2 linked regions of the Homo sapiens genome follow. The protein of the gene in region 1 interacts with the protein of each later gene in a biochemical or structural test. Each region holds a gene or a part of one and is shown on either strand. Other genes may lie near its edges.

The links. The genes of interacting proteins can lie anywhere in the genome.
Region 2: the proteins of CRP (region 1) and CFHR3 form a complex in vitro, tested with the Homo sapiens proteins (2 studies listed by IntAct, with this or other methods).

Annotation. Positions count from the first base shown.
Region 1 is NC_000001.11:159,711,790-159,716,038, reverse strand, and holds CRP (C-reactive protein isoform 1 precursor), read left to right. Parts: upstream 1-1,449; 5' UTR 1,450-1,553; coding exon 1,554-1,614; intron 1,615-1,900; coding exon 1,901-2,514; 3' UTR 2,515-3,750; downstream 3,751-4,249. UniProt on the Homo sapiens protein: Displays several functions associated with host defense: it promotes agglutination, bacterial capsular swelling, phagocytosis and complement fixation through its calcium-dependent binding to phosphorylcholine.
Region 2 is NC_000001.11:196,777,840-196,781,339, reverse strand, and holds part of CFHR3 (complement factor H-related protein 3 isoform 1 precursor), read right to left. Parts: intron 2,179-3,500; coding exon 1,984-2,178; intron 1,544-1,983; coding exon 1,367-1,543; intron 1-1,366. UniProt on the Homo sapiens protein: Might be involved in complement regulation.

The DNA.
Region 1 (4,249 bases):
TGCTGGCCTGAAAGTGAACTATTCCATCTCCTGCTATCATGACTGAATACTAGTCAAAGGGAAAAAGGGGGAAGTGGGAGGGGAAAGCACATACCTTTCTTAAAGAGCACAACCTAGAGATGGTCCCTATTCTGTTCATATCTCGTTGGCCTTAATTTAATCACATCATCACTGCAAGCTACAGTGGGGGCTGGGAAATTTGGTGTTTGAGGGGATGACCAAGCGCCCAACTGAAAATGTTATTCTTCTCTTATGAGAAGTAGAGAATGGATGTTAGGGAATGGCTAGAAGACTCTACTACAAAGGATACGGTGGTTCTTTTCTGATTGCTTCTAACTTCTCAATGAAAGGTGAGTTCATCAGCTGAATGAAAGAATAAATGAGATTTTGGGGACTTGAGGAGCAAGGAGAAGGAGTATAATAGTCATTTTGAAGAGTGAGTTAAGTAGGGAACTGTAGTAAGATTGACAGACAGTGTGGAGGGATTACTTGAATCTTGTGAATAGAGGAAAGAGTAGAATCAGATTATCCTGACTCCTGCCTGAAGCTTTACATATTCAGAGAAAAATGTTGGAAGAAACTTTGATATAATGCTATGTCTGTGATCAGGCACACATTTTACTGGACTTTTACTGTCAGGGCCGTCATTTAGTGCCAAGATGTCTAGAGAGTTCTTAATAAGTGTACTCAATTGGCTGAGAAAATGTGTCCATGCAAAAAACCAAACACCGCGTGTTCTCACTCATAGATGGGAATTGAACAATGAGAATACTTGGACACAGGAAGGGGAACATCACACTCTGGGGACTGTTGTGGGGTGGGGGGAGGGGGGAGGGATAGCATTAGAAGATATACCTAATGCTAAATGATGAGTTAATGGGTGCAGCACACCAGCATGGCACATGTATACATATGTAACTAACCTGCACATTGTGCACATGTACCCTAAAACTTAAAGTATAATAATAATAAAAAAATGTGTCCATGGCTCTGGGAGGAGCATGTTTGTTTTCCTCATTTCCCAGTCTGTAAATAAGCAAATTGAAAGGGGTTAGTGATAATGTCCATCTCCAGAAGCTGTCAGATTTCCTTTGTCAAACTCTATGATTTGGGCTGAAGTAGGTGTTGGAGAGGCAGCTACCACGTGCACCCAGATGGCCACTCGTTTAATATGTTACCATTTCCCATTATTTTCGCAGGATAGATAGCCAAAGTGGAGCCCTGAGAGATTTCTTCATTTTTCCTGTCATAAAGAATTGGTAATTCAGTAGTCATAGGAGTTTGTAATAAATAACTCACATTGATTTCTCTGTTCTGAAATAATTTTGCTTCCCCTCTTCCCGAAGCTCTGACACCTGCCCCAACAAGCAATGTTGGAAAATTATTTACATAGTGGCGCAAACTCCCTTACTGCTTTGGATATAAATCCAGGCAGGAGGAGGTAGCTCTAAGGCAAGAGATCTAGGACTTCTAGCCCCTGAACTTTCAGCCGAATACATCTTTTCCAAAGGAGTGAATTCAGGCCCTTGTATCACTGGCAGCAGGACGTGACCATGGAGAAGCTGTTGTGTTTCTTGGTCTTGACCAGCCTCTCTCATGCTTTTGGCCAGACAGGTAAGGGCCACCCCAGGCTATGGGAGAGATTTGATCTGAGGTATGGGGGTGGGGTCTAAGACTGCATGAACAGTCTCAAAAAAAAAAAAAAAAGACTGTATGAACAGAACAGTGGAGCATCCTTCATGGTGTGTGTGTGTGTGTGTGTGTGTGTGTGTGTGTGTGTGGTGTGTAACTGGAGAAGGGGTCAGTCTGTTTCTCAATCTTAAATTCTATACGTAAGTGAGGGGATAGATCTGTGTGATCTGAGAAACCTCTCACATTTGCTTGTTTTTCTGGCTCACAGACATGTCGAGGAAGGCTTTTGTGTTTCCCAAAGAGTCGGATACTTCCTATGTATCCCTCAAAGCACCGTTAACGAAGCCTCTCAAAGCCTTCACTGTGTGCCTCCACTTCTACACGGAACTGTCCTCGACCCGTGGGTACAGTATTTTCTCGTATGCCACCAAGAGACAAGACAATGAGATTCTCATATTTTGGTCTAAGGATATAGGATACAGTTTTACAGTGGGTGGGTCTGAAATATTATTCGAGGTTCCTGAAGTCACAGTAGCTCCAGTACACATTTGTACAAGCTGGGAGTCCGCCTCAGGGATCGTGGAGTTCTGGGTAGATGGGAAGCCCAGGGTGAGGAAGAGTCTGAAGAAGGGATACACTGTGGGGGCAGAAGCAAGCATCATCTTGGGGCAGGAGCAGGATTCCTTCGGTGGGAACTTTGAAGGAAGCCAGTCCCTGGTGGGAGACATTGGAAATGTGAACATGTGGGACTTTGTGCTGTCACCAGATGAGATTAACACCATCTATCTTGGCGGGCCCTTCAGTCCTAATGTCCTGAACTGGCGGGCACTGAAGTATGAAGTGCAAGGCGAAGTGTTCACCAAACCCCAGCTGTGGCCCTGAGGCCCAGCTGTGGGTCCTGAAGGTACCTCCCGGTTTTTTACACCGCATGGGCCCCACGTCTCTGTCTCTGGTACCTCCCGCTTTTTTACACTGCATGGTTCCCACGTCTCTGTCTCTGGGCCTTTGTTCCCCTATATGCATTGCAGGCCTGCTCCACCCTCCTCAGCGCCTGAGAATGGAGGTAAAGTGTCTGGTCTGGGAGCTCGTTAACTATGCTGGGAAACGGTCCAAAAGAATCAGAATTTGAGGTGTTTTGTTTTCATTTTTATTTCAAGTTGGACAGATCTTGGAGATAATTTCTTACCTCACATAGATGAGAAAACTAACACCCAGAAAGGAGAAATGATGTTATAAAAAACTCATAAGGCAAGAGCTGAGAAGGAAGCGCTGATCTTCTATTTAATTCCCCACCCATGACCCCCAGAAAGCAGGAGGGCATTGCCCACATTCACAGGGCTCTTCAGTCTCAGAATCAGGACACTGGCCAGGTGTCTGGTTTGGGTCCAGAGTGCTCATCATCATGTCATAGAACTGCTGGGCCCAGGTCTCCTGAAATGGGAAGCCCAGCAATACCACGCAGTCCCTCCACTTTCTCAAAGCACACTGGAAAGGCCATTAGAATTGCCCCAGCAGAGCAGATCTGCTTTTTTTCCAGAGCAAAATGAAGCACTAGGTATAAATATGTTGTTACTGCCAAGAACTTAAATGACTGGTTTTTGTTTGCTTGCAGTGCTTTCTTAATTTTATGGCTCTTCTGGGAAACTCCTCCCCTTTTCCACACGAACCTTGTGGGGCTGTGAATTCTTTCTTCATCCCCGCATTCCCAATATACCCAGGCCACAAGAGTGGACGTGAACCACAGGGTGTCCTGTCAGAGGAGCCCATCTCCCATCTCCCCAGCTCCCTATCTGGAGGATAGTTGGATAGTTACGTGTTCCTAGCAGGACCAACTACAGTCTTCCCAAGGATTGAGTTATGGACTTTGGGAGTGAGACATCTTCTTGCTGCTGGATTTCCAAGCTGAGAGGACGTGAACCTGGGACCACCAGTAGCCATCTTGTTTGCCACATGGAGAGAGACTGTGAGGACAGAAGCCAAACTGGAAGTGGAGGAGCCAAGGGATTGACAAACAACAGAGCCTTGACCACGTGGAGTCTCTGAATCAGCCTTGTCTGGAACCAGATCTACACCTGGACTGCCCAGGTCTATAAGCCAATAAAGCCCCTGTTTACTTGAGTGAGTCCAAGCTGTTTTCTGATAGTTGCTTTAGAAGTTGTGACTAACTTCTCTAATGACCTTTGAAATCAAGTCCCTGTAAGTTTACACTTCCCATTACACAACATATCCATGGCACTTTAACCTGTCCAAGAGTCCCCTGAAGGGATTCCCTCTGACAAGCACAGTCCCTCTTTTGAGATAGCTGGCCATTCATGTAGGGCCAGTTGTGGGGGTTTTAGTACTCTCATTCTATCATTATTCCAATTTGAGGAGCAAAAACTAAAGATCATTGAGATCCATGGATCTGCTGCCAGGTTCAGTGACTGGAATGCACTTGCCCCAGCGGGTTCAAGTTCTTTGTAGAAACAGACCCCTCAAAGATGACAGCAGCTGGCTTCCTCCAGAAGTGTCCTTCAACACTGTCTTTCAGTACTAAGTGACCAGTAGAAGTTACTCCATAAAGACCATAGCCAGGAATGAATTATGGGGCTTCCTGCATATCAAATGGTTACCTAGG
Region 2 (3,500 bases), about 37 Mb from region 1:
TTTGACCCAGCCATCCCATTAATGGGTATATACCCAAAGGACTATAAATCATGCTGCTATAAAGACACATGCACACGTATGCTTATTGCGGCATTATTCACAATAGCAAAGACTTGGAACCAACCCAAATGTCCAACAATGATAGACTGGATTAAGAAAATGTGGCACATATACACCATGGAATTCTATGCAGCCATAAAAAATGATGAGTTCATGTTCTTTGTAGGGACATGGATGAAACTGGAAATCACCATTCTCAGTAAACTATCACAAGGACAAAACACCAAACACCACGTGTTCTCACTCATAGGTGGGAACTGAACAACGAGAACACATGGACACAGGAAGGGGAACATCACACTCTGGGGACTGTTGTGGGGTGGGGGGAGGGGGGAGGGATAGTATTAGGAGATATACCTAATGCTAAATGATGAGTTAATGGGTGCAGCACACCAGCATGGCACATGTATACATATGTAACTAACCTGCACATTGTGCACATGTACCCTAAAACTTAAAATATAATAATAATAAAATATAAAAAAAGAACCAAAAAACATTCATCATGAAAAAAGATTGACAATTATTTAGTAAAATGAGCAACTTGTTCATAATGCAGAAAAAAGGAAAGAACAATACTAGCCACAAAGAGAATGCATTTGCATTACATATAATTAAAAGAGATTTTACCTTCAGAATTATTAAGATGATTCCAACTAATAACAACCAAAACTCCCAAAAAGATAAATAAAAGAAATCAAACTGCATTTCCAAATTTTAGAATCATTAAATACCAATTAAACTGTGAACATGTATTCTAAATCCAGCTGGTAGTAAAAGAAATGCAAATTTACATTACAATGCTATACCATTTTATAGCCACTCAACTTGTAAATATTAAAATGTGACATCACCAATCATTAGCAACATGTGAAAAAAGAAGGAACTGTTTATATAAATGTATATTTGAATAAATACTGTAGGAAACCTTCTAGAGTAGAATATGTACAAGATCCCAGAATACCCATTTGTACTTAATCTTCTTGGTGCAAGATGACGAACCTCGGGTATTTACCCGAGACATTAATGCCGCTTCAATATGACTTTATTTAGCCAACAAGTATTGTGTTCTAATTCTTTTACTGTATTCTTGACTAATGCCCATTAATAGGAGCATTTATTTTGCTATGTACTTATCAAGAAATTTGTATATTCACACAATTAAAAAAGTAAAACTAAATAGGTCCGTTGGCAAAACAAGTTGACAAAAACATTTTGCCACAGTTAATATAGACAAGTCTGAGACTGTCGTCCGTGTTACTTAGAAAGACATGAACATGCTGGGATCTCAGAGCGGTGTACTTACTGACACGGATGCATCTGGGAGTAGGAGACCAGCCTTTCTCCGTACATGTAACTGTGGTCTGCGCTTTTGGAAGACCGTAGCCAGGATGGCAGGCAACTTCTGTAGAGTTACCCTGTACAAACTTTCTTCCATAATTTTGATTATATCCATTTTCCAAATAAGGAAAATAACATTTTCCTAAGGACATAGCAATGATAAATAAATAAAGTAAATGAGAAACATAAATTTGCACAAAAAGTATATTAAAATTATTGTTACCATATTTAAATAAGATCGCATAAACATCCAAAAATAATGTACAACTTAGTATGAACCAAAATTACTAACAAAGGTTGTACAAGAGGAAATGTCAATATTTAATATTACTTCTCTTTAGTTTTCATAATTAAAATATGTATAAACTATATAGATATTCTCATAAAGTCTCTATATTTATTTTTCATATGATTTTCAAGAACTCCTCATAATAGAAAAGATCTATTTTGGTCATTTTGCTTGAACAACTCATTTCTTGGCCCTATTTCTGTTACATAAGACAAGAGTAATCAATTATGTGCTCTCCTCTCTTTAATCTTTTAAAGTTTTATACATGTGTAGCAGTTCAGAGGATTACTTACTGAGACATGGTACTGCTGGTGACCACCCATTTTGTGTGCAATGAATGTAATCCCAGTAACTTCCTGAAGGAGTCTCAAAATGTTCATCACAGTAATAGGAGTAATATTTTCCTACAGCTACTGGAAAGTATGGTCTACGCATATTCTCATGAAATAGACCTCCATGTTTAATGTCTGGAAAATCACAAGGTTTCACTTGCAATAAAAAACAAACAAAAAAGTATAAATAATTTTTACTGTAATAAATCATATTAGAGATAAATTTTGATATCACCTTCTCTCAAACATTTTCTTGTGGAATTACAGCAACCATAACTAGTTTCCTGATCCTGACCTCTCATCTGTATAATCTGTTTTCCTGGGTATAAATTAATAACCCTTCATCTGGTCATTTTATTTCTACACTTAAAATCCTTAATGGATCCCAAATCAGCTAACAGGACAAGAAGAACCTCATTCTACTTTCTCTACTTCTACTAATGTAGTATGGTCTCTTTAGCAATTCTGGAGGTTTTATCAACATTAATTTGAACTGAGCTTATCTAGAACTATACCAAGTTATGCTAAAGCTGTCAGTTCAGGGTGCACACATTACCAATAATTGTTTTTTGGAAAAGAGAAACAAGAAATATGACTCTAAACATTAAAAAAAATCAGAAATGTACCAATTATCTCCAGAAATAAAACATTTTCTTGAGTTTTGTGGCATTTTGTTTGTATTCGATGGCATGCATTCTTACCATAGTTAGAATTCATGTATCGGATGAGATATATTATTGACATAAAAAAATAGGTGCATACACGAATGTTCAAATATATATATATTCTTACATTCTATATGTATGTAGACATATAGAATGTTGACCAATACCATAATTTAAATAGCATATAATTTATGTTTCTTCTATAATTCTGGAACAAGTGATAGAAAATAATATTTACAGCCTATTTATTGGGAAAACTTAAGAATATCACTAAGGAAAAATCTTTAAGTTTGAATCATCATAAATCAGAGAGAACGGGAAGGAGGCTAGCGGCACAACAGCTTTAGTGTGCAGATGAGAAGACTAAGTTCAGAGAAGTGACATCTTTACTTTGTGGGAAGTGTTTGCTAGTTACAGAACTGGCTCCAGAGGCTTGTTGGGTGACGCATGACAGCTTCTCTGACCCAGTCCCTCAAGCATGGATGCACAGTTTTCTGCTGAGTGTCTCCTCCATATTGGAAAATCTAAATCTCCCTGCACTGTGTAACCTCCTGAGATACTCTTACATTTTCTTATGATTGCAGGCTATTTAGTCTGAAGAAGAAAGGGACATATATTAAAGGAAATCATTTTAATTTTTCTTTCTTTTCTTTTTTTTTTTTTTTTTTTTAACAGTCTTGTTCTGTCACCAAGGCTAGAGTACAGTGGCACCATCTCGGCTCACTGCAACCTCTGCCTCCCAGGTTCAAGTTATTCTCCTGCCTCAGTCTCCTGAGTAGCTGGGATTGCAGGTGTGTGCCGCCACTCCGGCTA